Regions from separate parts of the Homo sapiens genome. Here regions 2 and 3 are each linked to region 1. Evidence: fine-mapped expression QTL. A gene starts in region 1. Each other region holds a variant in brackets. All regions are shown on one strand. Distances are between the middles of the regions.

Region 1 (10,404 bases):
GGAGGCCACGGGGGCTCTACCCAGCACCCCATCCTCTCCCCTTCCTGGGGGACGCCCCCTTGCCCTTGCCTGGCACAGACCCGCCCCGCTCCTCTCAGGATGGACGGCGTCCAGGCTCCAGGGCCCTTTCGTCCTCAGTGCCTGCGCGCCTCCATGTCCCTCGGCCTCCCCTCCCCGGGCTCTTGGGGGAACTGCCCAGGCTCAGGCCACAACAGCCTCTGGCCTCTTGCTGCTGGGGCAACACAAGCTCCCCAAGGAGCTCGCCCCAGCAGCTCACCCTGTCCCAGGAAGGTCTCCGGGCCTTGACTCTGCCGATCGGACTGGCATCCCAGACAGTCAACTCTGGGATCCCTAGTCCAACAGGAGGGCCTGGGAGTGGAGCCCGCGGGCCCCACGCGCCTTGCGGTCCACACTCCTGGCTGCCTCCCACATCTCCGCCGAGCTCCAGCTGCCTGTGTCTCCACGTGGGATCCGCAGACACCTTAAACTTGTGCCTAAAAATAGCTCCTCTCTCCCCAGACCTGCTTCTCCCCCACCTTCCCCTCGGTGACGTAGCAGCGCCTCAGCCTGGTTTTCAGCCGAGACCCAGAGACCACCCCACCCTCCACACCCCAACCAGAAGTACTTCCCACACTGAAAGCCCAGCCTGTCCGTCCAACCCAGGGTCTTGCAGCCCTCTCCAGGCCATCCCTGTGCCCAGCGGGGACCACACAGGTGCCTTCCCTCAGTGAGATCTGGGGGGTCCTGGGGCCCGAGCCCAGGAACAGGGAGGAGGTGTCCCCTGCCCCACGCTCCCCTTGAAGCCCTCCTGCTCTTCTGGGGTTCCCGGAGGTCAGTCCCCTCAGCATATCCGGAAAGTGGCCGCTTTCAGTGGCAGGGCTCTCGGTGAGGAGTGACCATGACCGTGGCTGATTCCTGGTGGCCACCGATCACCTGGTGACGAGCCTGTCCACAGCCATCGTCCATCGTCACCAATGGGCAGCTGCTGACCACTGCCCAGAATGTGCAGCTGCCAGAGGCCCTCAGGGGAGGAAGCTGTTCCTGACCCCTTAGAGAGTCCTCACCCACCCCAGGGGCTCAGTAACTTTGGGGGTCAGAGGTCACAGCCTGTGTCCCCCACCATGGCTGGCCTGGGTACCTGTAGCTCCTCTCCCTGCACCTGGCCCTCCTTCCTGGAGGGCTCAGGTCTCCCAAGTGAAAGCAGGAGATAGGCCTGGGCAGAGATATGCTATCTGCACACGTATGTCTGTGACATGTACATACGTGTGTCCTGCCTGCACCACACACACCAGGTGTGTCCACCTGAGGCCCAGTGTACATCACGTATACACACCAGCCACATGCACGGGACATGGCGTGATACTGTGGACATGGGCCCCGGGAGCGCCACACCCCCGCCCTGTGCACGGTGTGTCACGCGAGTGCATGTTCGCTTGGCTTTGCAAAACGCAGCCACCCTCTCCACGGGGCGCCACGTCACGTGCATGGACGGATGTCTAGTTTGGACGCTGCCTGCCAACAGACTTTGGAGCATTGATTTCCATACACGTTCTCCACGTCAACGTCTACGTATAGGCACGTATGAGGCCTACACATGTACACACACTCGTTCTGAACACCAGCGTGTACACACAGGGAGCCTCTCATGGCAGTGCACGGGCATGGTGGATACGCAGATACCGCATGTGCAAGACTGCTGTCTGCACACACACTGGCTGCAGCTACACGGAGACATCTTGACATGTCCCTGAGCACACGGCACTGTATATTGTGACATACATGTACTTTGCATACACATATATGTTGTCAATATACAAGGGCACTCTGTACGCTGAACGTACATATCCTGTATGTAGAGATGTGAACAGAGCATAGATACATGGACACACACGCAGCAATACCGTCTACAGCAGGCTGTGGCTCTGCTTCCCACACACGGCTGCCTTCAGCGTGCACCCACCCGAGTCCACGCGTGCTCTGGACACGGCATGAGCCGCCCTACATGCCCTGTGCAAATACTCTAAGGCGCCTCTGCCTGCCCCGCGGAGCCCTCAGTGTGCTGCCACAGGCGGATGCACACGGCCCCAGCCCACGTGCGTGGAGGCCGCACCTTTCTGATGCTCTGGAGCTCGGGTCTGGGCCCAGCCTCCGGGAGGCAGTGGAGCCGACCTCAGGCCTTTGCTCAGCAGTCGGACCTGCCAGCCAGGGACACGGGGCTCTCTGGTAGCATGTGGCCACCCCACAAGCTCTTACCCCCTACCCTGTGCCCAGCACACGTGAGGGTCACAGACACCCCGATCTCTGCCTTCTCTAACACCCGTGTTCTTCATCGACACGCCTGCTGCACCCATAGGCATGTCACACGCTTAGCAACACATGCAGCTGTCCTGAACACACATGCCCCACACCCACACGTATGCACAGAGACCCCCGGAGCAGGAGGCAGCAGAGATGACGAACACGGGTTCTGGGCTGGTGCCCCCTTTGTCCTTCACTAGCTGTGTGACCTTGGAAAAGCCTGTCCTCTAAATCCTCCGTCCACTTCCTCATCTGTTCAGCAGGGTTAACAGCGGCCACTGCGTGAGGGTGTCCTGAGGGGTGGAAGTGCATGCGTGCGTGCGCGGGGGCTGTGTGTACGCACATGTATATGCACAGACGCCACACACATGCGCGTCTCATGAGAAGATGTTTATTTCGTACATGGACGTACAAACATGCATGGCCAAGAGGATCCCATCGCTACACGTGCACAGAGGGGGTCACACGGTGGGTGCGGGGGGTCTGGGCGCTCCCCTCAATCTGAATGACCTTGAGGAAGCTCCACCTCCCCGCTGCCCCCCCAGCCCATCCCTCAGCTCCTCTCCAGCCCGGGGGTGGTGCCCAGTGCCCCTCAAGGCAGGCCCTTCCCGCCTTGACCTGCATTCCCCTGCCCAGGGACTCAGTGCAGGGCCCAGCCCTGTGCCAGCAGGCGCTTCCTGCCCCAGCCCTGATGAGGCTGGCTTGGGTCTCCACTGTGGACATCACACTGGGCTGCGGCTTTCCGGCCTCCAGGCTGGACCAGGAGGCCCCGTGACCCATTCCGCCATCACCCTGGAGGCCTCTAGGAACGGCGTCCTAAAGCCATGCGCCCCCAGGAGACCCCCGCCCACCTTGAGACAGCTCCTCCCCCTGCGCACCTGGCAGCCCTCAAGGGTGGAAGGCGGCTCGCGGCCTGCGTGGGGCTGGTTCCCCCGCGCCCCGAGTGGGCCCCGCCACACATGTGCGCTCACGCGTGTCGAGCCGGCGCCGGTTGTGGACTCACCGGCCACAGTTGCAGTGGCAGACGCGGTCCTCGCCCCGCAGGTGCGGGAGGATGTAGTTGTGGAATCGGTCCAGCAGCGCGTTCATGTCCATCAAGCACGCGATGGCCTGGAAGAGCTCATGACCGGTCAGCGCCAAGGAGCGGGCGGGACGAAGCGGGGCTGGGGGTGGGGAGCGCAGGCCGGGGTCGGGGCAGCGCAAGCGGGGAGCGAGAGCGCAGGCCGGGGTGAGGGGAGCGTAGGCCTTGGTAGGGGGAGCGCAGCGGGTATGGGGATCGCAGGCTGGGGAGGGGAGCGCAGGCCGGGGTGGGGGGAGCGCAGGCCCGGGAGGGGACCGCGGGCCGGGGAGGGGGAAGCGCAGGCCGGGGTGGGGGGAGCGTAGGCCGGAGAGAGGAGCGTAGGGAGTGTGGGGATCGCAGGTTGGGGAGGGGAGCGGAGGCCGGGGTGGGGGAGCGCAGGCCGGGGAGGGGAGCGCAGGCCGGGGAGGGGAGCGCAGGCCGGGGAGGGGAGCGCAGGCCGCACGGGCGGTAAACAAGGCGCGGGAGGTGGGCCAGGCGGCGCGCGCGGGCGGGGAGCAGGGGGCGCGCGCGGGAAGCCCCTCCGCTCACCATCACGACCGACGCCCCCAGAATCATGAAGATCATGGTGTTCGCGCTCATGGACATCGGGCGGGGCCGGGCCGGGCCGGAGCGCCGCCCCCCGGCCCCGGCGCCCCCCCGGCCCCGGCCCGATGCTGAGCCCCCGCCGCCTCCGCAGAGGTCAGCGCTTCCCTGGATCGTCCGCCGCCGCTCGCTGCAACCCCGGCACCGGCCGGGGGGAGGAGGCGCGGGGGGGGGGGCGCCGGGGAGGGACGCGGGGCCTTTCTGGGGTCTCTCGGCCCGGCCCGCCGCGCTCCGCTCCGCCCTCGGGTCCTCCCTGCGATGCGCTCGGCTCGGCTCGACTCGGCTCCGCTCGGCTCCGGCCCCCTCCCTGCCTCCTCCTCCCTCCTCCCCCCTCCCTCCCCGCCGCCTTCCTCCGCCTCTCGGGAGGGACCGCGCAGACCGCAGGCCGCCCCGTGCCAGCGCCGGGAGGAGACCGCCATCCCCCGGACGCCGGCCGGGACCCCTCCCCGGGAGCCTCGGCTTCGCGTCCCGCCCCAGTCTGGTCAGACCCAGCCCCGGTGGCCTGTCCGGTGACCCTGGACGCCAGTCCTCCGGTCCTGGAGGGGCGCCGAGGCCCTTCCCGCCCCACTGCTCCGCCCTACGTCCTGGACTCCCAGGTCGCCGGGTGCGGGACTGCCCCAGTCCGCTCGGCACGCACGTGCCTCCAGGGTGGGGTCCGCAAGGTCGCGACAGCCCCACGGCCGTGGGGGCCACAGGTCAGGGACGGGATGACCCCTGGAATCCTCAACGGAGGGATGTGGCACAGGAGCCGAGGGCAGGGCCGCCCCGCACAGGCTTCCCTTAGGGCGGGGACGAGGGGGTCAGCCCAGGCCCATGGGTCGGGACGCCGGCCATTCAGAGGCCCAGTGGCCACCACTCCGCTGTGGCTGTCCCTGGCTCGGGGTCCTGAGGCCAAACTCTCATCCACGACCGGTGACCATGTCTCAGGCCCGGGAGCCGACCCCCGGCCTCAGCAGGAAGTCAGCGGGAAGCTATGCCTGGGACCCAGCCTGGGTCGTGGCGCCATCCAGGCTCACTGCAGCCTCCACTCCTGGGCTCAGGCGATCCTCCCGGCTCAGCCTCCCCCGTAGCTGGCCTTGGGGGATCCCCGCCCGGGGGGGTTCCACATGGAGAGGGGACGCCGCTCCACCACAGGCAGCAGTTGTGGCAGGAGCAGGCGGCTTCCGCTTCAGGCAGCACAGGCACGGGTAGGCCCAGACCCTGTCAGCACCACCAGGTCTGAGCTACTCCTCCCAAGCAGTGGTCGGAGGTCACTGAGGGCGGCAGGGCTAGGCCTCTGCCACCTCCTCAGGGGCGAGGGTCGGGCCAGGAATTCAGGACCAGGCACAATGACAGCAGCATCTGTTTATTGACAATTCCAGGTCATTCCTAACACGCCGCAGCAGGGCTCTGTACAGTCCGGCCCGGTGGGGAGGAGGGAGGGAAGGCAGGCACACGAAGACACAGGTATGTCGGGAAGTGCACACAAACCGTTGTCTTTCCTTTTTGGTTAAAGAAGAAAAACTTTGTAATCAATATCCTGCTCATAAGTAAAAGTGGAAAAGAAGAAACTTGATTGCTTTCATCTGGCGTTTTGGCATCTCCTCTCCCATTTCATATGCACAGTTTATTTGGGTAATGCTACCGTCACCAGCAGAACACCTGTAAGTAAAAACAAATGTCAGGAAGGAAAAAGTATGAACAACAGGAAGCTCCAGAGGCGGCTCCATGCGGGCGCTGGGCTCAGTAGAAGCAGACGGTGTGCAGAAAGGTGCGGCCACTCTTCTCCTCGAACTCCTGCAGCAGCTCGTCGATCTCGTTCTCCATGTCTTCCGTGTGCTGGATCTGCAAGGACAGGACCGTGGTGAGGGCCTTGCCCACTCCTGCCTGTCTGCTCCCCCTAACACCTGGATCGCCAGGGAAACGCCAGGCCTGAGCCAGCAGAAACCAGCGCAGCAGGCAGGCCCTCACCCCACCGCTGCTGCCTCACAAGGACGGCCGGAGGCTGCAGGGGGAGAGCGTCCCGGGCAGCCCCCACCTCCCCACCGACCCTCACAGGACCTGAAGCTGGGAGGAGCTGGGAGGAGCCTGGAGCTGGATTCTGAGAGGGGCCCAGCACGGAGACCTGGCGGCCAGGGCTCAGACCCACACATGCACAGCGGGGCCGACCAACCCTCACCGCCAGCGCTTCCACACCACCAACAAGCGAGCGGGGGCAGCCTGGTCATCGGAGCATCCTGGCCTCCATCCACCAGAGCCCCTGGCAGAGGGCCGCTGCCCCAGAGTGAGCAGGCCCGGCTCCTAGGCACACCTGCCCTGGCACCGGCAGCTCGTTACTCGCCATCTCCACTGTCCCCTGGTCCCCAGCCTTGGCCAGCACCCAGTGCCTCTAAGCAAGGAGCGGCCTGTCTGTGACTCAGCTCTGGCCAACGTGACCCAAGCAGAAATCGTGCAATAACTTCTGGGACGACATTTTCTTATGACCTTTTCTCCTGCCAGGCGATCATGAAGACCGTCCCTGGCGCTTCAGCAGCCACACTGGACCGTGAGGCACGTGGGGACCAGAAGCCATGCTGGGTGGGCCAGGCGGAGCGCAGGAGCCTCTGCGGCCACACAGCAGCTTCTCCCAGCGCCCGCCCGCCTGGCTCCCGGGCTTTCCAAACACACCATCTTCTTTCTTGGTGAAGCTGTTCTGTTTTTCTGTCTTTCACAGACATTCATCAAATCACAGAGGCAGAGGCAGAGGCAGAGGCGGGACGGTGCGTGGGGCTCTCCTCAGGCAGGTCCTTTCGTCACAGCCCAGCACCTCCACGCCGCAGCAGGGTGGCTACAGAAGCCTTGGGGTGCCCCGGCCCCTCTGTGCAAGGGAGACATGCAGGGCCCACTGGGGAAGGCAGGTGTGCAGAAGGCCAAGTCCAGGGGTGGACGGCGGACACAGAGCCCTTGGCAGCCTCCAGGCTCACGTGGGGCACACCTCCGACTGCACCGCATCCCGGAGAGCTGCATGCTCTGCTCACTGAGGTGGGGCTGTGTCCGCCACGGGGAAGAGACAAGGTACCAGGCGTTCCCTGGAGCCGTGTCCTGGGAGAGGGACTAAGCCTGTGTTGGGGAGGTCCCTGTGCAGCGTCTCTCAGCTGAGCAAAGGGCATTGCAGGGGGGCCTCCTGTGCCAAAGCTGTGGAGTGACTCACTGAACTACCAGCAGGCGCCCCCGACACAGGCGAGCTGAGCAGACCTTGCCCCAAGCAGCAGGGCCGGCCTCAGGTCTCGGCCACTCCCCTCTGTCACGGCCTCGGCCACTCCCCACTGTCACGGCCTCGGCCACTCCCCTCTGTCACGGCCTCGGCCACTCCCCACTGTCACGGCCTCGGCCACTCCCCACTGTCACGGCCTCGGCCACTCCCCTGTCACGGCCTCGGCCACTCCCCTCTGTCACGGCCTCGGCCACCCCCTCTGTCACGGCCTCGGCCACTCCCCTCTGTCACGGCCTCGGTCACTCCCCTCTGTCACAACCTCTGCCCAGCGCGGCGCCCAGCCGGGTACTTACACACTGGCAGAGCTCACAGATGAGAAACGCCCCCAGGGTGGCCTCCTCGTGGTTGTCCTGGATGTCCACATTGACCACGTGCACAGGCTGGCAGGTCTCCTGTTCTCTGGAATTCAGATCTGATTGGGACAAGGTGACACAGACGTCAGAGGCTCCAAAACCAGGGAACAGGCAGTCAATGTGGCTGAGTCCCCAGCTCTGCCGGCTGCAGGCCCAGCCCAGCCCCAGTGGTTTCTGGACTCTGCAGTTTGGGGAGCACAATGAATGAGCCTCAAACCGAAGGCGGCTGATGGTTCGAGGAAACCTGAGCAAATCTCCAACTCAGCACAAGCTGGTCTGGGACTCCCCACCCACCAGCCAGTCCTGGGGTGAACCGTGACTGGCATTGCGACCCTTCCCCGTCACTAAAGACCAGCCCTCCCTGCTCCACCGCCAGCTCCACACAGGGTCCATCCGCTTGAAAAATGGGCCTGGCGCGGTGGCTCTCGCCTGTGATCCCAGCACTTTGGGAGGCTGAGGCGGGCGGATCACTTGAGGACAGGAGTTCAAGACCAGCCTGGCCAACATGGTGAAACCCCGTCTCTACTAAAAATACAAAAATCAGCTGGGTGTGGTGGCACACGCCTGTAGTCCCAGCTACTCGGGAGGCTGAGGCAGGAGAATCACTTGAACCCGGGAGGCAGAGGTTGCAGTGAGCCTAGATTGTACCACTGCACTCCAGCCTGGCGACAGAGCACGACTCTGTCTCAAAAAACAAAACAAAAAAACACCAAGGAGAAAAGAGGCCCCTTGAAGCCCATGAGGCTGCAGCCAGCACATGGGTGGTTCAGCGACCAGCGGCCCTGCCTGCCTTCCAGGGTGCTTCACACTCAGGTCTGCTCCCCGGCCCCCGCCACTCTAGACGGGCTGTACTGGTCATGGTGGGGCCCTGCAGGCATCCCCAGACCCTGTGAGAGCTGCTGGAGCCCAGCCCAGCACGCAGCCGCCTCCTCACCTTCCACCACCTGGTCATACACTCTCTCTTCGCAAGTGAGGATCAGATCAAACAGGTCTTTGCAGTTCTGGAATCTTTCTGGCCGGGGCTTGATTCTCTTATTTCTGTCCAGCATATGTAAAATCCCATTCTGTGTATAGCTACACATGGGAGTTAAGGAACGTCAGAGAAAAGGCATCTGTGTATGAAGCCTGGAAGCGCCTGTGTCCTGGACACCCAGCCCCTTCCCTGCCCCACAGCAGAGGCAGCCGGGACGAAGGCCTGGACAGCGGAGTGGGCCATGCCCTGGTGAGGCAGGGGCCTCACTGTCCTAGGAGGTCCCACAGAAAACAAAGTGGGCGATGGCAGGTGCTTGCTCCTCGCTGTCCCCCAACTCGGCAAAAAGACCCAAGGCCCGCAGGACACCCCCCGCCCCCGCCCAGCATGACACCTTCTACCCAGACCTCTCCCCTCACTGCTGGCCCGGCCCAAGCTGCCCTTGGCCTCAGTCACTGTGTCTCCGCAGTCGGATCCTTCTTCCTCCCTCTGCTCCCTGTGCAGTGCATGCTGGCTCTGAAACCTCAGCCCTTCAGCAGAGACAAAGCAAACCCGGAAACCCAGTCCCCAGTCTAGCTCAGCTACAACAGAGTCAAGAACATCGGAAAACCCAAAGAAAGGAAGCTCCAGGCCGGGCGCAGTGGCTTATGCCTGTAATCCCAGCACTTTCGGAGGCCGAGGTGGGCGGATCACGAGGTCAGGAGACCGAGACCATCCTGGCTAACACGGTAAAACCCCGTCTCTACTAAAAATACAAAAATTAGACGGACATAGTGGCACATGCCTGCAATCCCAGCTAATCGGGAGGCTGAGGTTGCAGTGAGCCAAGATCATGCCACTGCACTCCAGCCTGGTCAACAGAGCAAGACTGTCTCAAAAAGAAAAAGAAAAAAAAACAGAAGGTTCAGCAGCAATCAGCCTGGAAAACGCTGATACAAAAACCAAGAGGGCAAGACAGTCGAGGAGGGAGATGCCACAGCCTCACTGACTATGGGATGGTGGAGGGCAGGATGAGGCCTGAAGGCACTTGGCGTCCAGCCCAGCTGAAAGGGGGCCTTGGGGTGAACGCTGACACACACCGGCCCCAGCAGTCCCAGGAAGGGGCCACAGGAGCCTCTGGGGTCCTCAGGGTGGGGCATCCTCCCACCATCCACAGTGGCCATGCCTGGCCTCAGGGGTTCCCAAGGAAGGGGCTCACTTCCCCAAAAAGAGAGACTGGGTTCCCAAAGATGAGCTCTGTGGTCTGCAGGAGCTCATTTGAGCCATTCCAGATGGTCAGGGACAAGTAACCACTTTCAGATAAACAGCCTAGCTGACAGGAATTCTAAGTGAACTCAGCTACCTTCCTGGGTAGCAAAAATAGTTTTTATAATAGTTTTATAATACATTGAAGTGGTTGATCTAACGGCATCTGACCCTGAGCTGCATCCTTGGGTCACTGTCAGCAGCGTGGAAGTCACACACCCACCCCTGACGTGTGTCTCCTCCTGCACATTGGAGTCCCGCCTGTGTCCCCGAGGCCCCTGGAAGCAGCTATGACACCCGGGTCCATCTCTGGGGAACTTAGTCCTTCAGCCGCTGAGAATCAAAGTCTGCGGAAAGAAGAGCTCGAGGCCGGGTGCGGCGGCTCACGCCTGTCATCCCAGCATTCTAGGAGGCCGGGCGTGGCGACTCACACCTGTCATCCCAGCACATCGAGAGGCCGAGGCGGGTGGATCACCTGAGGTCAGGTGTTTGAGACCAGCCTGGCCAAGATGGTGAAACCCCGTCTCTACTAAAAATACAAAAGTTAGCCAGGTGGGGCGGCACACACCTGTAATCTCAGCTACAGCTACTCAGGAGGCTGAGGCACGAGAGTTGCTTCAACCCGGGCGGCGGAGGTTGCAGT
Region 2 (10,404 bases), 25 kb after region 1:
ATGGCAAGTAGGCAGATGGCAGTGGTGGGGTCCCCCTCGACCCCGGCCCTGCCTCTGAACAAGCAGCATTTTCCTCCCAAGTCACACTGTCCTTCCTTTTTTATTTTTTTGAGACAGAGTCTCACTCTGTCACCCAGGCTGGAGTGCCGTAGCGCGATCTCGGCTCACTGCAGGCTCTGCCTCCCAGGTTCAAGCAACTCTCCTGCCTCAGCCTCCCAAGTAGCTGGGACTACAGGCGTGCACCACCATGCCCGGCTAATTTTTGTATTTTTAGTAGAAATGGGGTTTCACTATGTTGGCCAGGCTGGTCTCTAACTTCTGACCTCATGATCCACCCACCTCGGCCTCCCAAAGTGCTGGGATTACAGGCCTGAGTCACCGCGCCGGCCCGTCCTTTGTCTTGACGCTGTGAACACTCGACCAAGTGCTGCGTCTTATCTTTGGGCCGCATCTTGAACCCCGTCTTGCTTCCACTGCAGTTTACGGCGATGACTTCTGCCAACGCACCGGCTGCTGTGGGGCAGATTTGCTTTCGGGCTCTCACTTGTAACAGTCACTTCCCGCGGCCCCCCTGCACCCATCACTAACCAGGAAACGTTATCGGGGTCCTCCCGACCTGCACATCTCAACACCCCTGAGGCCCCACCCGGCATCGTGCCAGTGTCCACAGGGAACTGCCTGGGGACTTCACTCCTCTCCAGGCCAAGGGCATCATGTGCAAGAGCTTTAGCTAAGTGGCAGGCTTCCCATTCTGCACCTTCTGCCCCCACCTAGGGGGCAAAGACGCCCCCCGAGTGAAATAAGGTAATGAAGGCACGCTCCTCCTAGAGCCTCCTGAGGGGCCACCACAGGCAATGCCTTTCCCACACGAGGTCCCCAAAGCAGAGCCCGTGGCTGACAGTGTCCCAGCGCCACCCCTGCTGCCACTCCTTCCCCCCACCACACACCAAGAGCACACACACGCACGCGGGGTTCTTCTGGGCCGATGCTTCCTGGGAGATCACCAACCCCTACAGTCCCTCTGTAAAGGAGGAGCTTCCGAATTCTGGGACACTGGGCTCAGCTCCTTCTTTTAGAATGACCAGAGACAGGCTCATCCTCTGCCTATACCAAGTCCTTCCGGATGAGACTGCTGAAGCTGGACTCAGTCCTTGCAGAACGTGGCAAGTACTTCCCAGGTCTGGAACCCAGGAGGTCACAGTGGGCTGACATGAAGGGGCTGAGCTTACACCAATCAAGGGAGTGTGAGGATGTGCGTCACTCTCTGCTTTTCTTTCTCTTACTGAATATACAAGAACTTAAAAATAAACAGTGCTAACTGAAGAGTAATTGTCAAAAACAGGATGTCAGGCTAAGCTTCATGGCACAGAGTTTAATGTGAATCATGAGATGAGACAAAAGCCTCCTCCAGGGCGATGGGAAGACCCAGCCCCAAACCAGACTCTTGAGCACGCAGCCCTAAACCAGACTCCGGGAAGGGGCTGCGTGGTCATGCACCGCCTAAGACTCAGAGGTGAAGATGGGAAGACCCAGCCCTAAACCAGACTCCTGGAAGGGGCTGCGTGGTCACGCATCGCCTAAGACTCAGAGGTGAAGATGGGAAGACCCAGCCCTAAACCAGACTCTTGGAATAGGCTCTGTGGCCACCCATCGCCGTAAGGCTCCGGGATGGAGACAGCATGGACAGGGACCTCGCACAAAGGCATGTCGGGAGGGCCTCCTTTCCAAGGCACAGCCCCACCTGCTCCTTCTCAGCCCACGACGGGAGCAGAGCCATGTCGAAGCCGTGCCCCACACAGGGTGGACAAGGACATGGCCTGACAGCTCCTCAGAAATCCTTAGAGATTTTTCCAAACGCAGGTTACCAGGGCTTCTGCAGAGAGAGGGGCAGCAGGACGTGCTGCTGACAGTCCCTGGGGACTTACACTGACTTGCAGTGAGAGCCCACATCTGCCACCAGGATGGCTCCCAGCACCACCGCGTCACAAGCACCACACTCTCCACCGTGGGACGCCCAGATGGCTCGGCAGGCAGGCCGGGCTGGGGAGCTGACAGCAGACGCCTGGGACTCTGCCCAGCGTCCTCACCCACAACCTTTTAACTGTAACTGGCAGAGGAGACAGCAGGGAGGGCAGAAGGTACAGTGATGGCTAGGATGCAGTTCTAGGTTTTGCCAGACATACTTTCAGGGGCCACTCCTGGCTACCTAATTAATCTACCTGTGTATAAGAATTTTTTAGCTTATTAAATATTCCAAGAGGCCAGGCATGGTGGCTCACGCCTGTAATCCCAACACTCTGAGAGGCCGAGGCAGCTGGATCACGAGGTCAAGAGTTCAAGACCAGTTTGGTCAAGATGGTGAAACCCCCGTCTCTACTAAAAATACAAAAATTAGCCAGGCATGACAGCGGATGCCTGTAATCCCAGCTATTCGGGAGGCTGAGGCAGAGAATCGCTTGAACTTGGGAGGGGGAGGTTGCAGTGAGCTGAGATCAAGCCGCTACACTCCACCTTGGGCAACAGGGTGAGACTCTGACTCCATCTCAAAAAAAAAAAAAAAAAAAAATACAAGAGTAGGGCTGAGCATGGTGGCTCACGCCTGTAATCCCAGCACTTTGGGAGGACGAGGAGGGTGGATCACCTGAAGTCAGGAGTTTAAGACCAGCCTGGCCAACATGGTGAAACCCTGTGACTACTAAAAATACAAAAATTAGCCAGGTGTGGTGGCGCGTGCCTGTAATCCCAGCTACCCAGGAGGCTGAAGCAGGAGAATCACTGGAACCCGGGAGGTGGATGTTGCAGTGAGTCTGCAGTGAGCCAAGATCTCGCCACTGCACTCCAGCCGGGGTGACACAGTGAGACTCTGCTGGGAAAGGGCGGGGATGGCAAGAGTGCCAATACATAGACAATGCTGGGCAAGGCCAGAGATGCTGGTCAAGGGCGGGGATGTCGGGAGAGGGCGGGGATGGCAACAGTGCCAACACGAAGATAAAAGGTTTAGCATTTGACACCTATTCTCTTTTCATTTGGAATACGTTTGGCCTGGCCTCCGTTCTGAAAACTACAAATCACTCACTATAACAAAATAAGATCCAGAAACTTTCCATTAGCGTGGGGGTGACCATGAAATGCCTGGTCAAAAACCCGGGCACTGATTGTCATAACCATTATGCAACTGGTGTTGCGTCCATCAGAATCTAGTTTAAGAATACTCTTCTCTCTATAGGAGTCTTCGCGGCAGACCTAGCCTGCTCTGTGTCCTCCTGAAATGAAGGAATGTTCTCTCCCATTATTTCTTCTAACAGCTTGGTTAGCAAGCTCCGCCCTCTTCTTTATCTGACCTTCTAACGACCTCACCAGATGTGTGAAGCAGCCCGGCTCCATGTGTATCAGGCACGCACGCACACACGCACGCACACCAACCTGCAAAGGAAATAACGGGGCAGCCCTGCAGTGTGAAAAGCAATGGGATTTTGTGGGTTCCACCTCCTCACCTAAGCATCCCTGGTCTACGCTATGTCACGACCCTCTGCTGAACCACGTCAGGGTGAACCCCACACCGTGTCTGTGCGCCTCACCACGCCTACTGCCATGGGTGGCACTGGAACTAACCCGTGGACGATCCGACGTGCACCAGGAATAGAAACCAAGCTCTCGCAAAGACAGAGGAGCCAGTGTGTGCACTGCACAGGGTGACACGCCTCCTGTGCCCGAGCCACACGTAACACCTTCCAGGGAGGACCACACGGGGGGTTTTTAAAGGGCAACCCGCTGGGATACAGTTCTTTGTCTTTCCTAAGAAGATCATTGTACATCTGGTCATATGTGGTTTTGAAATCATAAACATTGGGCTTGTCGGGAGCTGGTCCTGGAAGCTTCACGTGAGTCCCTGTTCCAAAGGATCGGACGCTGAATCCCCGTTTGCTGAAAGACAAAAGGAGAGAAAGAATCACAGTCACACTAAGACACAAAATTCCAAAAGCAAGGGACAGCAAATGGGATAGAAACAAAATGAGTAATTTCATTGGCTCATAGTAGAGAATATGTCTTCAAATTTTTAATCTAGGCCGGGCATGGTGGCTCGCGCCTGTAATCCCAGCACTTTGGGAGGCCAAGGCAGGCGGATCATGAAGGCAGGCGGATCATGAAGGCAGGCGGATCATGAAGGCAGGAGATCAAGACCATCCTGGCTAACACGGTGAAAACCCGTCTCTACTAAAAATACAAAAAATTAGCCGGGCGCGGTGGCGGGCACCTGTAGTCCCAGCTACTCGGGAGGCTGAGGCAGGAGAATGGCGTGAACCCGGGAGGCGGAGCTTGCAGTGAGCAGAGATAGCACCACTGCACTCCAGCCTGGGCGACAGGCTGTAGCAAGTTACACAAAAGCAATCAAACCAGAACTGACCATCACAAAGCCACATCTGAACATCATAGCTTGTTTAAGGCTTTACTTTAAACTGAAAGGACTGACTGATGTGGACTTGGGGAAGATTTCATCAGAACATTTTGGCCATCGACCAACGTCCTGGCTTTGGAGGATCCAAGTTCACAGGATTCCTAAGGGACTC[A/G]CAAAGGTCCAACTGCCCGCTCCACCACAGGAAACTCTGTCTCCCCCAGTTTCCCAACACCCCCACGATGTGGCTCCATGGGAACCGAGACCCAACACCCAAAGGAGTCCCACAGGCTCAGGGTTGCTGCAGGCAGAGAACAGATGCCGCGATGGGTCCGACGGTGCTTGTTCCTTGGACTTCCTAGTCACAGGTGAGGAAACTGACCAAATACTTTTCCTAATCAACTGGAGAAAAGAGCTGAACAGGAAACGTGTGTCATGTGCCACCAATGAGCTCTAGTTCACGCAAGGAGAAAGAGAGGTCGTCTCCAAACACTGATGGAGTGTGGTAAGACCAGAAAATTCTTCTGTCATCGCTGACAAGCACACTTAAGTTTGTCACAACAAGTTACATGTAAAAAAGTTACTTTGGCACCGAGTGCGGTGGCTCACACCTTCAATCCAGGCACTTTGGGAGGCCGAGACAAATGGATCACCTGAGGCTGGGAGTTTCAGACTAGCCTGGCCAGGAGGCGAAACCCCAGCTCCGTTTCTACTAAAAAAAAAAAAAAAATTAGCTGGGCATGGTGGTGCGTGCCTGTAATCCCAGCTACTTGGGAGGCTGAAGCATGAGAATCGCTTGAACCCAGCAGGCACAAGTTGCAGACATTGGAGATCTCACCACTGCACTCCAGCCTGGGCAAAAGAGCGAGACTCTGTCCCAAAAAAACAACAAAAAAAGTTACTTTGGTATAGAACATGTGTTCTTGTAAAGTCACAACTGATACTTATAATTACCTAAAAAATATAGACTTCTCAACCTAGCTTTATTTATAAATCACAAAAGGTTTGCATCTGAAGGAATCTGCCTGGCTCAGGGCGCAGGGCGCACATACACTTCCATTAACACTAAACTCCTCTTACAGGCCTGTCATTCTTGTTCAGAAAAGTGCTGCTGCTTCGCTCTTGAGCAAGAATGACACACAGACACGTGAGGAGTTCCATATTATTTTAAAAAAAGAAAAGTAAGGCCGGGTGCGGTGGCTCACGCCTGTAGTTCCAGCAATTTGGGAGGCCGAGGTGGGCAGATCATGAGGTCAGGAGATCAAGACCAGCCTGGCTAACATGGTGAAACCCCATCTCTACTAAAAATACAAAAAATTAGGCGGGCGAGGCGGCGGGCGCTTTTATAGTCCCAGCTACTCGGGAGGCTGAGGCAGGAGAATGACTTGAATCCGGGAGGCAGAGGTTGCAGTGAGCTGAGATCGCGCCACTGCACTCCAGCCTGGGCGACAAGAGCGAGACCCTGTCTCAAAAAAAAAAAAAAATTACTGAATGTTGAATGAGTAACAGTGTCACAAGAGAGGAAAAACTCAGGCAGAGGGGGCTGCTGGAGTGTAACCAGTCTCTATGCGGATAATGGGGCAACACCCAGCAAGTGAAAACTACCTGTGCCTTTCTCACAGACACTGGCTTCTAGAAACCCGCCCTACGGACATACACGTGCCTCTGCAACATGGCTGCCTGCAGGATGCCCACTGCCGGCCTTCCACAGCCACAAAAGAACAGACAAGTAGAATAATCCATCCATGGGGCAGGACAGGCCATGCGGCTCCACGCGCACCTCCGAAGATGAGTAGAGGAAGCAAAAGAGCCCAAGGGCACCCTGCTGCGCCACCACACACGTCACCCACACACACAGAGAAGATGTGCTCATCTAGTGTACGTGAAACACCTGAGTCCCCTGAGGCTGATGACAGCTGCGTCAGTCCTTACATCCCTAGATATTCCGAGCTACACAACCCGGCTCTCCAAACATCTACCACACACGGCCAGAAATGTGGCACAATAGCAGCGATTCATGACTACAAACCCGTGTTCACGGCACCCGGACTGTGAAATAAACGTGAAAATGCTAAAATTAAAATTCCTGACATTCAGTCATAACCACAGATCCTGACGGAAACATGAGGTTAAAGCAATAAAGTCAACTGTTGGTTGTGACTGAGAGGGTGACGGAGGCCCAGACACAAGGCATACCACAGGGAGCACACGTGAGAAACAACAAGCCTAAAATGACTTCCTTACCAATTCAGACAACATACAATAAAATATGTTCCGTCAAAGCACAAACAAGGGCCGGACGCGGTGGCTCACTTGAGGTCAGGAGTTCGACAACAGCCTGGCCAACATGGTGAAACCCTATCTCTACTAAAAATACAAAAATTAGTCATGGTGGCACACGCCTGTAATCCCAGCTATTCGGGAGGCTGAGGCAGGAGAATTGCGTGAACCCCGGAAGCGGAGGTTGCAGTGAGCCGAGATCGCGCCATTGCACTCCAGCCTGGGAAACAGAGCGATACTCTGTTTCAAAAAAAAAAAAAAAAATCGCACAAAGAAGCCCAGGATCAGCGTGATCACAGCAGCCAAAGGAGACAGCCTGCCTCCCAACACCAACAAGAACTCACCACCTGCTGGACGTTCCTTTAAGTTAGCCTATTTAAAAACAAAATGCAGTTTGTTTTTCCCCCAACAAAAGGTTCACGAATGGCAAAAAGGCTATTTAGCAACAGAAGCAGTATTTCTCCCAAACTGATGCAACCGACAGGGCAGCCAGCTTGCGACTCAACAGCGTTTCTTACATAAAAGCAAGGACAGCTTGGAAAACACTCCTGACACCAACAGGCTTCGCCTGAAGGGCCAACGCCTTTGTAAACTAATCTTCCAGACAAGTATTTGTCTGGTATGCCAAACAACTGTCTTTACAAGTACCAAAAATCTATCAGAGGGCTTGTAATCCCAGCACTTTGGGAGACCAAGCAGGTGGATCACTTCAGCTCAGGAGTTTGAGACCAGCCTGGCCAACATGACAAAACCCCGTCTCTACTTTAAAAAAAAAATAAAAAAATAAAAAAAGCCAGGCGTGGTGGTGCGCGCCTGTAATCCCAGTTACTCCGGAGGCTGAGGCTGGAGAATCGCTTGAACCCGGGAGGTGGAGGTCGCAGTGGGCCCCGTGATGGTGCCACTGCACTCCCGCCTGGGTGACAAAGTGAGACTCTGTCTCAAAAAAACTCCAAAAAACTATCATAAAGAAGCCATCAGGCGGGGCATGGTGGCTCACGCCTGTAATCCCAACACTTTGGGAGGCGGAGGAGGACGGATCACTTGAGGTCGGGAGTTTGAGACTAGCCTGACCAACATGGAGAAACCCCGTCTCTACTAAAAATACAAAACTAGCCAGGCGTGGTGGCTCATGCCTGTAATCCCAGCTACTTGGGAGGCCAGGAGTTCAATACCAGCCTGGGCAACACAGTAAGACCCTGTCTGTAAAAATAAATAAATAAATAAGGCCAGGCACGGTGGCTCACGCCTGTAATCCCAGCACTTTGGGAAGCCAAGGCAGGCAGATCACCTGAGGTCAGGAGGTTGAGACCAGCCTGGCCAACATGGTGAAACCCCGTCTCTACTAAAAATACAAAAAAATTAGCTGGACATGGTGGTGCATGTCTGTAGTCCCAGCTACGCAGGAGGCTGAGGCAGGAGAATCGCTTGAACTCGGGAGGCAGAGGCTGCAGTGAGCCGAGATCTTGCCACTGCACTCCAGCCTGGGCGACAGAATGAGACTCCGTCTCAAAAAATAAAATAAAAGAAAAAAACAAAAAAACAAAAACAAAAAGCCACAAAACAAACAAACAAAAAACCTAACTGGTTCCAAGGGGACACTTTAATCCTTGGAGCACCAAGCGCAGGAGGCTCTGTGGAAACGTACGGCGGAGTCTTCTGGCGCTGCCCTGAAACATGAGGACTCCCAGGACTCTGGTATTTGAAACAATTTAGTCTCTAACACCAAAGATGATCACCCCAGAGAACGCTAACATGTCGACACTTACTATCACTTGGATTTATCAGGAAAATAGAGTCCACGCTGATTTTCAATAGGGTGAAATTGTTACTGTGTCTGTTTTTAGAGACAGAGACTTGGTTTGTCGTCCAGCCAGGAGTTCAGTGGCGCAGTCACAGCTCACAGTCATAGCTCACCACAGCCTCAACCTCTTGGGCTCAAGTGATCTTGCTGCCCCGTCTCCCAAGCAGCCAGAATGACAGGCATGTGCAACCACATGTGGCTAAGTTTTAAAATGTTTTGTAATGATAGCGGGTCTCACTGTGTTGCCCAGGGCTCAAACTCCTGGGCTCAAGCAATCCTCCTCCCTCAGCCTCCCAAAGTGCTGGACTATAGGCCGAAGAGCCACCTTGCCAGGCCCAAAATTTTTAAAAGGGGCGAGGTTCACTGATCAGCTAGCTACTGTGCCTGCTCAGTTAACTACAATTCCTTCTGACAATTTTATTTCAGCTTTCCTGTGCAGTTTTATGTAGCCCTACCCAACTGCATACAATTTTCCTGCTTTTTTCACTTACCATAAGCATTTCCTACGCTTTTCACATCATTTTTAACGCCTAAAAGACTCTCTAAATCTGACTTTCACAAGCTTTCCCAGTGTAACAGAAAAGCACTATCACACAGAGTTTCTGAGTATTAAAACTCTCTAAATAAACCCAAATCAATAGACAAAGGACATAAACAGGTAATTTTCAAAAGCAAAAATGCTCTGGGTGCGGTGCCTCACACCTGTAATCCAAATGCTTTGGGGCGCTGAGGCAGGAGGATCGTTTTAGCCCAGATATTCAAGGGTGAAGTGGTGAGCTATGATCACGCCACTGCACTCCAGCCTTACTCTGGCTTGAAAAAAAAAACAAAAAAAAAAGGGAAAATGACAACAGACATAAATTCCAACTTCAATAAGGCCAAGCTAGAAAACCGAGACATGGAAGAACACCCTGCCGACCAGAGGCCAGGAGAAGTGGAGTGAAATTTCCTAAGAGTCTGAAGGATTTCCTGCCCGTTACCCCCGAGACCCCAGTCATGACATGGAGGAAGAGCCACATGCAAGATGGACACAAGCCACAAGCTGTGCTGTGAACCTGGGCACTCAGCGCCAATGCCACCAGTCTGTGAGTCTCTGCAGGGACCCCCCCCACCCCAAAATCGGACTGCCAAATTCTCCCGTTTGACTGGGGTATTATAGAAAATTATTTGTATGAATAATGAAAATAAGCCATCTCGTGGCAAAAAAAGGAAACTAATGATGTGAATACTAACTATGGAGCAGACAACAGAACAAGAGCTTATCCCCGATGCATGCGTGAACACATGGAGACAGACGGACACCAAAATGGTACCTCTGAGAGACCACTTTCATTTTCTACAGTAAGAATTTCTGCAACAAGCAGGCTGGGCGTGGTGGCTCACGCCTGTAATCCCAGCACTTTGGGAGGCCAAGGCGGGCAGATCACGAGGTCAGGAGATCGAGACCACCCTGGCCAACACAGTCAAACCCCATCTCTACTAAAAATACAAAAAATTTGGCCGGGCGCGGTGGCTCACGCCTGTAATCCCAGCACTTTGGGAGGCCGAGGCGGGCGGATCACGAGGTCAGGAGATCGAGGCCATCTGGCCAACACGGTGAAACCCTGACTCTACTAAAAGCACCAAAAATTAGCCGGGCGTGGTAGCGGGTGCCTGTAGTCCCAGTTACTCAGGAGGCTGAGGCAGGAGAATGGCATGAACCCGGGAGGCGGAGGTTGCAGTGAGCTGAAATCGCGCCACTGCACTCCAGCCTGGGCGACAGAGTGAGACTCCATCTCAAAAAAAAAAAAAAAAAAAAAAAAAAAAAAAAAAAAAAGTTAGCTGGGAGTGGTGGCAGGCGCCTGTAGTCCCAGCTACTCGGAGGGTTTGAAGGAGAATCGCTTCAACCTGGGATGCAGAGGTTGCAGTGAGCCAAGATCGTGTCATTGCA
Region 3 (10,404 bases), 78 kb before region 1:
GAAGTTCTGGGATTACAGTCATGAGCCCCCACGCCCAGTCAGGGTTTGTTTTTTTTTTTTGAGACAGTCTCACTCTGTCGCCCATGCTGGAGTGCAGCGGTGCCATTTCAGCTCGCTGCAACCTCTGCCTCCCAGGTTTAAGTGATTCTCGTGCCTCAGCCTCCCACGTAGCTGGGACCACAGGTGTGCCACCACGCCTGGCTAATTTTTGTATTTTTAGTAGAGACGGGGTCTCACCATGTTGGCCAGGATGGTCTCAAACTCCCAACCTCGTGTGATCTGCCTGCCTCAGCCTCCCAAAATCCAGGTTACATTCGTGAGTCACCGCCCCTGGCCCTGGTCAGGCTTTTGAGTCTAGATCCGTGAAAGTGTCGCCATGTCCCTGCTCCCTGCAGGAGGGAGGCCTGTGGGACTTTCTGCTGTGGCTGTTTACAAGGCTTTGCTCCTGGTGCCTAAGGCTGGAACCTTCTCTCTGCAGGAGAAGATAAGCGAGGACCTCAGGGCCACACTGAACGCCTTCCTGTACCGCACGGGCCAGCACAGCAACAAGTGAGGGAGCCCCTCGGGTCCTGGGCCCCCGGGCAGGGCTGTGCAGCCGTCACCCTTGGTTCCCACCGAGGGACCTGAGGGGCCCTGGCTCACAGTGCTGGGCAGCTGCCGTGGCCTCAACGTGCCCACCTTGGATGTCCCCTGGGAACGGCCCAGCTCAGGACAGCACGGGGTGTCACTGAGGAACATGCGGGGGCCTCCCGGGCAGAGCTGGGGTCAGTCCTGTCCTCACGGCCCTGTGCACCGCCGCCCCAGCTTGCAGGTCCCTCTGCCCCTAGGTTTCTGCGGTCCTGTGCCTGCAAGGGAGGTGGTCTCATCGTGTGAGGCTCTGCTGGGTCTCCCTTGGAGGGTGTGTGTGCCCTGGGGTGGGAGATGGAGACAAGTTTGCTCCCACGGGAAGTTGGACACCAGCAGGTCCTGTGTGTCGGGGCGGAACCTGGGACCTTGGTCCCCCGCCCGGATGCTGGCCAAGGGTGCACCCTCCAGGCTTGGGGCCCACCCGACTTTGTGTGGCCTCTGTGGGCTGCCGCCCAGATGTCCCCCATAGGGTGACCGCCCCATGGCCAGTCTCCCTAGTCCCTCCCAAGTCCCCTAATTTTGAGTTTTCTTGGTCTCCTGGGTCCCTCCAGCCCCAGTCACGTGTCACATGGAGGATCAAGTCCTGCTGGTCGGCCGTGGCTGACTCCTCAGGCACGTTGGGCTCCTGGGTCAGCTGCTGCCGGTAGACGCTCCCTGGAGCCCTGACTCGGGTCCTTCCCAGAGAGGCAAGGCTGGGGCCCTGCTGAGCCTCCAGTGAACCCGGGCCCCCGAGGTCCTGCTCCTGGCTCGCGTGGCAGTATTTTTTTTTTTTTTTTTTTGAGATGGAGTTTTTGCTTTTTCTGCCCAGGCTGAGGTGCAATGGCGTGATCTTGGCTCACTGCAACCTCCACCTCCTGGGTTCAAGCGATTCTCCTACCTCAGCCTCCCAAGTGGCTGGGATGACAGGCGTGCGCCACCACACCCGGCTGATTTTTTGTATTTTTTCTTTTTTAGTAGAGATGGGGTTTCACCATGTTAGTCAGCTGGTGTTGAACTCCAGACCTCAGGTGACCCACCCGCCTCGGCCTCCCAAAGTGCTGGGATTATAGGCGTGAGCCACTGCGTCTGGCCAGCGTGGCCACAATCTTGACATGGACTCTGGGTCCCGCATCCCTGCTCCCAGCACAGCGGGGCTCAGGTAGCAGGAGGGAGTGGTGTTCCCGGCACTGCCTATCAGGCTGGGCGACGGTCAGCGGGGAAGTACCACACGGGGCAAGAACAGAGGCCCAGGAAGCCGGGCAGGGGGACAGCTGGGCGTGGTGGGGCAGGCAGGCGGGTGACCATGGCTGTGGCTGCGTTCTCCCCATGTTTCCTGTGCTCACAAGCTGCCACTTTAGATTCTCCCAGAAAGTCTTCCTGAGGGGGCTGAGGAGCACCTGTTCCCCTGGGGACAGCTCGGCCGGCAGCCCCAGCGTTTCCTTCCCCATCCCCGCCCCGCAGATTCATGCTGATCCTGGCCAGCTGCCACCCCGAGCAGTTCGACTGGGCCATCAATGCCTGCATCGACGTGATGGTCCACTTCGACCTGCCAGGGCAGGAGGAGCGGGCGCGCCTGGTGAGAATGTATCTTAACGAGTATGTTCTTAAGCCGGCCACAGAAGGAAAGCGGTAAGTGTCCCGCCCCACCAGCCCCCGTCCAGGGGCCCTCGCTCAGGGTCCACCCCTGCTCCTGTTCTCCGGACACACCCAGCAGGCCCTGTCTCCAGGATGGGCACCACCTCCCTGCCCTGCGGTTTCGTGCAGGAGCCCTGTGGGCCCCAAGGGTCCCAGAGGCCGCATCCAGGGAGGTCCTGCCACCCTTTCCTCATCCCCACCTGAGAACAGCCTGGTGGCGTGTCTTCTGGTTTGGAGGCACAGTCCACTATCACTTACAAACCTTTAACATTTTTTTTTTTGAGGCGAAGTCTCGCTCTTGTCCCCCAGGCTGGAGTGCAGTGGCACGATCTCAGCTGACTGCAACCCCTGCCTCCTGGATTCACGCGATTCTCCTGCATCAGCCTCCTGAGTAGCTGGCATTATAGGTGCCCACGACCACGTCTGGCTACTTTTCGTATTTTTTGTGGAGATGCGGTTTCACCATGTTGGCCAGGCTGGTCTTGAACCCCTGACCTCAGGTGATCCGCCCGCTTCAGCCTCCCAAAGTGCAGGGATTACAGATGTGAGCCACTGTGCCCGGCCTCTTTTACGTTCCTCTTCACTACGCGGAGAGCTGTGAGGAAATCCTGTACCTGGCCACCCCCAGACCCTGGCAGTGAGGGGAGGTGACGTGGAGTGTTGCTCTGAGACCCCCATGTCGGAATTCGAAGGAGAGTCTCCTCATGAGACCCCCATGTAGGGACTGGAGGGAGAGGCTCCTCATGAGACCCCCATGTAGGGACTGGAGGGAGAGGCTCCTCATGAGACCCCCATGTAGGGATTGGAGGGAGAGGCTCCTCATGAGACCCCCATGTCGGGACTAGAGGGAGAGGCTCCTCATGGTCCACTGCTGGCTTCTGGCCTGGCCTCCCTGCAGCTGCCACACCCGGCCCTGGAGCCTCGTGGTGTGGGGCGCGGCTCTTGCTTCCTGCTGCACATGTGCCTTGAGGCTGTCAGGCTCCCTGTTGCTGGCGGTGGGTGCAGCAGGCACGGTGGGCAGAGCCCTCCAGGTGATGAGGGGCCCTGGCGCCTCACACTGGCTGCCTCGGGAACACTCCAGATGAGCAGAGGCTGCTCTACTTCTTGGCGTCCCCAGGGCCCCGGTTTCTGAGTCCTTCTGTGCACCTGACCCAAATCCCTGCTGTCGCCAGTGACGACAAAAGCTGCTCTGTTCCAAAGAGAGCCTGGTTCTCCCCTGCCGACCCCTCCACTGCCGCCTGCTCCATGCTAGACCAGCTTTCCGGGTCTCAGTTTCCCTATGCCCTCCCCTTCCCTGGGCTCCCCGACACCCATGGCTGCTCGTAGCTCTGGCACCATGACCTGGCTTCTGTGGCCTCCAGGCAGAAGCTTTTTTGCTAGAACTCAGGGCTCTGCCACTGCCAGTTTAACGGCCATGCGCCCTGTGGGTGCTGAGTGGACAGGGCTGGTGTTAGGAAGGGGTGCGGCCATCTCCAGGCCCCACAGCCGCCCCCTTCCTGCTCAGCCCAGGCCTGGCTTGCGTCAGGAAGGGGGCGGAACTTGGCTGTCACAGGTAGAGAGTCCCTCTCAAGGGGGCATCTGGCATGGGTGTCCGCCTGGCTGCCTGTCTTCCGGCCTCCACCTCGTGGTGTGGGAGCTGCTGCCTTGGCCGGCCCACTTGGGAACTCCTTCCCCAGGCGTCTGAAGCTGGCCCAGTTTGACTACGGGAGGAAGTGCTTAGAGATCGCTCGGCTGACAGAGGGCATGTCATGCCGGAAGATCGCACAGCTGGCCGTGTCCTGGCAGGTGAGTCAGGCTCGGGTGCACCCACCCAGATGGAAGCCCAGCTGCTGTGCAGATGCTTGGTTGCGCCAGGCCTGTCCCAGCACCGGTGTCACGTGGGAGCTTCTGTTGAGGGGTTTTCAGTGCACAGATGTGACACGGGGCCCCTGCCCCAGTTGGGCCACTCCACGCAGCAGCGTGCACCTGCTCCAGCAAGAAGGGTGGGGCCATGTCAGTGGCTGACGGTCACAGGTCAGGAAGCCAGTGCGGCCTCCTAGTAGCCCGGGCTCTGCCAGGTGGGGCGGGAGGCTTCTGATGCTCACCTTGGCAGACAGGCACCCCCCAGTGTGAATGGTCATCAGGACAGGCCCCTTGTGAGTTTGGTGGTGGGGGTGGAGGGACGTTGTGTTTCTTGGACCAAGTCCATTGGCTTGGTCCTGCTTGACGGGCCCAGACACATGGGTGGGAGTTGTGGCCTCTGATTGTCCCACAGCCAGTTGTTTCTCAGGGGCACCCCTCCTGCAGCTCCATGGCTGCCCCAGGGCCAAGGAGCTGGGACTCACAGGAGTGTGGGCACGGCCATCCAGAAAGCTTTGGTCTTTGGGGGTTGCTGGAAAAGCAAAACCAGGTCTGTGGGGCAGAAGGCACCCTGGCCATGCACAGGCATCGCTGCCTCTGGGGTCCACAGAGTCTGTGTGACAATCTGGTCACT[C/T]GATCTAGCAGCACATTATGTGTGACAGCTTAATGAAGTAGCCAACTACCTTGATTTGAACGTAGGAGCCGGGGTATGTAGGGAGCTGTATTAGTCAGTACAGGCTGGGTTATGCCGCTGTGACAAAGAACCCCAGATCTCAAACCCCGTCCTTCTGGGTCAGCTGAGGTCTCTGTTCCAGGCCATCCCCACTTGGGACCAGGTCTGTTTCCACAACTAAGAAAGCAGAGGCCGGGCATGGTGGTGGCTGATGCTTGTATTCCCAGCATTTGGGGAGGTCAAGTCAGCCAGATTATTTGAAACCAGGAGTTCAGGACCAGCCTGGAAAGCAAGTCAAGAACCCATCTCTACAAAAAATAAAAAAAATTAGCTAGACCTAGTGGTGCATACCTGTGATGCCAGCTGCTTGGGAGGCTGAGGTGGGAGGATCACTTGAGTCCAGGAGGCGGAGGCTGCAGTGAGCTGTGATTGTGCCACTGCACTCCAGCCTGGGTTACAGAGTGAGACCCTGTCTTAAAAAATAAGAATAATTTGGTCATGGCTTATGCCTGTAATCCCAGCATGCTGGGAGGCCAAGGAGAGAGAATCACTTGAGGCCAGGAGTTCGAGACCAGCCTGGCCAACATGTCGAACTCCACCTCTACTAAAAATACAAAAATTGGTCGGGCATGGTGGTGGTGCATGCCTGTATTCTCAGCTACTCGGGAGGCTGAGGCAGGAGAATCGCTTGAACCCAGGAGGTGGAGGTTGTGGTGAGCCGAGATCGTGCCACTGTACTTCAGCCTGAGCAACAGAGTGAGACTGTCTCAAAAAAAAAAAAAAAAAGAACAGGAGTGTGGTCGACTGCTGGGCCTGCCATAACCACTGGGGCGTGTGTGCCCACAGCTCTGAAGGCTACAGGCCCAAGGTCAGGGTGCCAGCTCGGTCCCTCCCTGTGGAGTGTTCTTTGCTGGGTCCTCATGTGGCAGAGAGAGCAACTCAGCTCTCTCTGGTGTCCCTTATAAGGACACTCATCCTGCACTGCTCACAGCGGTGGTGGTGAGCCAACACGCCCAGCACCAACTTTGTCCTTCAAGAGTTTTTTTCTTTTTGTGCCGGGCACGGTGGCTCACGCCTGTAATCCCAGCACTTTGGGAAGCTGAGGTGGGTGGATTGCCTGAGGTCAGGAGTTCAAGACCAGCCTGGCCAACATGGTGAAACCCCGTCTCTACTAAAAATACGAAACTTAGCTGGGCGTGGTGGTGTGTGACTGTAATCCCAGCTACTCAGGAGGCTGAGGCATGAGAATCACTTGAACCCTGGAGGCGGAGGTTCCAGTGAGCTGAGATGGTGCCATTGAACTCCAGTCTGGGCTATTCAGGATCCCTTGAGATTCCATATGAATTTTAGGAATGGTTTTCCTATTTTTGTAAAACATAATTGAGGTTTTCACAGGGATTGCATTTAGTCTCTATGTTGCTTTGATGTCTCTCAGCAATATTGTGTGGTTTTCTCTTTTTGTCTTTTTGAGACTGAGTCTCGCTCTGTCGCCCAGGCTGGAGTGCAGTGTTGCGATCTTAACTCACTGCAACCTCCGCCTCCCGGGTTAAAGTGATTCTCCTGACTCAGCCTCCTGAGTAGCTGGGATTACAGGCACGCGCCAACATGCCCGGCTAATTTTTGTATTTTTAGTAGAGACGGGGTTTCACCATGTTGGCCAGGCTGGTCTCGGTCTCCTGACATGAGGTGATCTGCCCGCCTCAGCCTCCCAAAGTGCTGGGATTCATTCAGGTGTGGGCCACGGAGCCCGGTCAGTTTTCACTGTGCAAGTCTTTCACCTTCTCGGTCAAGTGAATTTCAAAGTATTTTATTCTTTCGGATGCTATTGTAAATGGAAATGGTTTCATAATTTCCCTTTCAGATTATTCATTGTGGGCCAGGCGCGGTGGCTCATGCCTTTAATCCCAGCACTTTGGGAGGCTGAGGTGGGTGGATCACAAGGTCAGGAGATTGAGACCATCCTGGCTAACATGGTGAAACCCCATCTCTGCTAAAAATACAAAAAATTAGCCGGGCGTGGCGGCAGGTGCCTGTAGTCCCAGCTACTCGGGAGGCTGAGGCAGGAGAATGGGGTGAATCCTGGAGGCGGAGCTTGCAGTGAGCCGAGATCGTGCCACTGCACTCCAGCCTGGGCGACAGAGCAAGACTGTCTTTAAAAAAAAAAAAAAAAAAAAAAAAAGATTATTCATTGTTAGTATGTAGAATTGCAGCTGTTTTTGCTGTTGATTTTGTATCCTGTAACTTTGCTGATGTCACAGGGTTGTTTTTTCCAATATGGATTCTAGGATTTTCTACATATAAGATTATATCATCTGAGAACAGGTGATTTTACCTCTCCCTTTTCAGTTTGGATGACTTTTCTTTTTCTTGTCTAATGGCCCTGGCCACAACTTCCAGTGGTATGTGGAATAGAAGCAGTAAAGCATTCTTGCCTGGTTCCTTACTCAGAGGAAAAGCTGCCAGTTTTTCACCACTGAGTATGTCACCTGTGGGCTTGTGATATATGGTCTTCATTGTGTTTAGGGCGTGTCCTTCAATTCTTGGTTTGGTGAGTGTTTTTATCATAAAAGTGTGAGGTGGGTGGATCACCTGAGGTCGGCAGTTCGAGGCCAGCCTGACCAACATGGAGAAACCCCGACTCTACTAAAAATACAAAATTAGTTGGGCGTGGTGGTGCATACCCATAATCCCAGCTACTTGGGAAGCTGAGGCAGGAGAATCGCATGAATGCGGCAAGCAGAGGTTGCGGTGAGCCGAGATCCTGCCATTGCACCCCAGCCTGGGCAAGAAGAGCAAACTTCTGTCTCAAAAAAAAAAAAAAAAAAAAAATGGCTGGGCGCGGTGGCTCACGCCTGTAATCCCAGCATATTGGGAGGCTGAGGCGGGTGGGTCATGAGGTCAGGAGACTGAGACCATCCTGGCCTGGCTAACATGGTGAAACCCTGTCTCTACTAAAAAATATAAAAAATTAGCTGGGTGTGGTGGCGGGTGCCTGTAGTCCCAGCTACTCAGGTGGCTGAGGCAAGAGAATGGCGTGAACCCGGGAGGTGGAGGTTGCAGTGAGCCGAGATGCCTGGGTGACAGAAGGAGATGTCATCTCAAAAAAAAAAAAAAAAAAAAAATTGTATTTGGCCAAATGTTTTTCCTGCAACAGTTGAGAGGGTCATGTGGTTTCCTTCCTCCACTCTGCTAATATTGACTGATTTTTGTATGTTGAACATTTTGTATGTGGAACATTGATTGATTTTCATATGTTGAACTGTCCTTGCATTCCAGGAATAAATCCTGCTTGGTCAGGGTGTGGAATCCTTTTATTATACTCCTGAATTCGTTTTGCTGGCATTTTCTTGACGACTTTTCCAACGATGCTCATCAGGGATATTGGCATGTCATTTTTCTTGTGGTGTCTTTGGCTTTGATATGAGGGTAATGCTGGCCTCTTAGGATGAGTGAGGAAATGTTCTTCAATTTGTCCAAGAGTTTGAGGAGTGGTACTGATTCTTCTTAATGTTTTGTGAATTCACATGTGAAGACATCAGGTCCAGGTCTTGTCTTTCAACTTTTATAGTTTGAAGATTTTAGGTTCCCAGAAAAGTTGCAAGAGTAGCACAGAGACTTCCTGGGCCTGGGACCTTGCCACGTGGTGAACATCATGTGTCACTGTTGGACCCACCCGCGACCAGGTTTTGCCCCAGAATCCCACCCAGGAGGCCACGTGACATTTAGCTGTCACTTCTGGTGGGCTCCTGCCAGGTCCCGTGCTTCCTGGAGGGGTGGCTCCGTGAGCATCTGCTCACCCCCTTTCCTCTGCTGGGCCCTGGGTGAGGTGCAGCCACTCGGGTGGACCCTGAGGGTCCCTGCACCTGTTTGCCCTCTCTTGGGTGGGCTCAAGACCAAAAATGATGTTGAGCAGTCCTGGGCCCCTGAGCCACAGTGGCGGTCCGGCTCCGGTCAGTGTCTCCTGCGCTCCCGGGCCCCCGACCCACAGTGGTGGTCCGGCTCCGGTCAGTGTCTCCCCACACAGTGGCTCTTGGTGAGGGATGGGCGCTGGCAGAGGGGACGGGCACCACGTGGTCATCCCCATGGCAGGTTCTATCGTGGTGACGGTGTTGTGGGAGGATGGTGTGCTGCTGCCCCTGCACCCCGTGAGATGAATCCTGCCTCTGGGAGGCATAGCTGGGATGGGGCTAGGGACCCGCTCAGCTGTCCGGGAAGGGTCCCCTGCCCTGTGCTTCCTCCAGGCGTCCTGGTGCGCTCTTGAGCATGGCGCCCAGTGGGGGTCCCCACACCCTCACCCTGACCCATGGGTGCCTCCCCTTGGGGACTCCATGCCCTTTGCTGGCATTGGGATGGAGAGTGACCTGTCCATGGCAGAAGGGCTGGACCTGAGGCTGCCTGAAGCCACACCAAGGGCCACAGCCCCAGCAGCTCCAGCCTTCACATGCTAGATGCCAAGCCCTGTGCCCAGGAGGACAGGGAGGTGGGGGCAGAGGTGGCCTTGGTGCCACCAGCCACGTGCCTCAAGGTGGGCAGTGGCTGCCTCTGCCCTGGAGGCCTGTGAGGGTCAGGGTCTGAGGGTCTGAGGTGCACTATGACCCGGGGGCACTGCCTGACCACGGCTGAGACACGCAGAGGGTCTGCAGTTCCCACCTGCCTCTGGGAAGCTGCCCTGGGTCGGCCGTCAGTGAGGCTCCGCCTTGGGCTTTCTATTAGAAAGTCATTGAGCAACATTGGTGCTGAGGACGCAGGCAGGGCTGTGGGCACTGCAGGGGCTGCCCCCGGTGTCCACACACGTGCTGGGCTCTGCCGAGGTGCGGGTAGCCTGTGTTTCACGCTCAGGCCATCCTGGAGCCCCTGGTTTGGTCCCTCCCCACCTCAGGGCCCTGGCGTGCATTTGGGGTGGGGGGTTCCCATGGCGGCCTCCCTCAGCTCCCTCTCTCCCCACTAGGCCACGGCGTATGCCTCCAAGGACGGGGTCCTGACCGAGGCCATGATGGACGCCTGCGTGCAAGACTTTGTCCAGCAGCACCAGCAGATGATGCGCTGGCTGAAGGGGGAGAGGCCTGGGCCCGAGGACGAGCAACCCTCATCCTGAGTCCATGGGGAGACCACACCTCACGGAGCCTGGCCGCGGACCCCTCCCACCCCTGCCTTTGCGGCCCCGCACATTTAGGAAATACTCCCCGTAATAAAGTCCCACGGGGGCCGCACCGCTGTGTCTATTGGCTGACACGGGGCGGGGTTTGGGGCCCCCTAACGTCCCCCTGGGGTCAAAGGTGACAGAAAAGGCAGAAGCTGGGGCTTTCTGGAGGATTTAACCACAGAGGGGTGGGCTTCACAGGAGGTGGCTGCCACGGCGGGGCCGGGTGCCCGTGCCCCATCCTGAGGCCGTGCATACGCGGGTGCCCCTTCGCCTCCCTCCCCTCCGCCAGAGCTGCCTGTGGCCAGACACACGGTGGAGGGAAGTGCACGCGAAACAGACACAGCGGCTTCAAATAGATGCCGCCCCTGCCCGCGCTTTGCAGCTAGTCCCTGCAAACCTTGATGATGGGGCTGGGCGCGGTGGCTCACGCCTGGAATCTCAGCGAGGCCAAGGAGAGTGGATCACCTGAGGTCGGGAGTTCCAGACCAGCCTGGCCAACATGGTGAAA

Alleles and levels. Alleles are on the strand shown, and positions count from the first base shown. SD is a standard deviation of normalised expression in the study named. Not every link is listed here.
For the expression in cerebral cortex of the gene that starts at base 4,242 in region 1, T is the high allele of the variant in region 3 and C is the other (large effect, 0.89 SD a copy in GTEx).

Evidence for each region. PIP is the estimated chance that this variant, and not a neighbour inherited with it, causes the effect.
Region 2: its variant is fine-mapped to the expression of TMEM240 in whole blood (INTERVAL, PIP 0.98).
Region 3: its variant is fine-mapped to the expression of TMEM240 in cerebral cortex (GTEx, PIP above 0.99).

Annotation. Positions count from the first base shown.
Region 1 is chr1:1,536,383-1,546,786 of GRCh38, forward strand. It overlaps TMEM240 (transmembrane protein 240), which reads right to left and starts at 4,242. Exons shown (of 4, transcript NM_001114748.2): 1 at 3,908-4,242; 2 at 3,302-3,408. The coding sequence starts at 3,964. SSU72 (SSU72 homolog, RNA polymerase II CTD phosphatase) reads right to left here. Exons shown (of 5, transcript NM_014188.3): 3 at 8,481-8,620; 4 at 7,487-7,605; 5 at 5,291-5,785. The coding sequence ends at 5,684. RefSeq lists a silencer at 2,827-3,121.
Region 2 is chr1:1,560,993-1,571,396 of GRCh38, forward strand. It overlaps SSU72 (SSU72 homolog, RNA polymerase II CTD phosphatase), which reads right to left. Exons shown (of 5, transcript NM_014188.3): 2 at 3,781-3,924. Among named protein-coding and RNA genes, the nearest start is that of SSU72, 8.7 kb to the right of the region's middle. RefSeq lists an enhancer at 9,493-9,994. The variant A/G (reference allele first, on the strand shown) is at 4,569.
Region 3 is chr1:1,458,683-1,469,086 of GRCh38, forward strand. ATAD3C (ATPase family AAA domain containing 3C) reads left to right here. Exons shown (of 12, transcript NM_001039211.3): 9 at 479-549; 10 at 2,068-2,235; 11 at 3,918-4,026; 12 at 9,702-10,404. The coding sequence ends at 9,848. Among named protein-coding and RNA genes, the nearest start is that of ATAD3B, 7.9 kb to the right of the region's middle. RefSeq lists enhancers at 2,944-3,718, 3,804-3,883, 3,904-3,963. The variant C/T (reference allele first, on the strand shown) is at 4,715.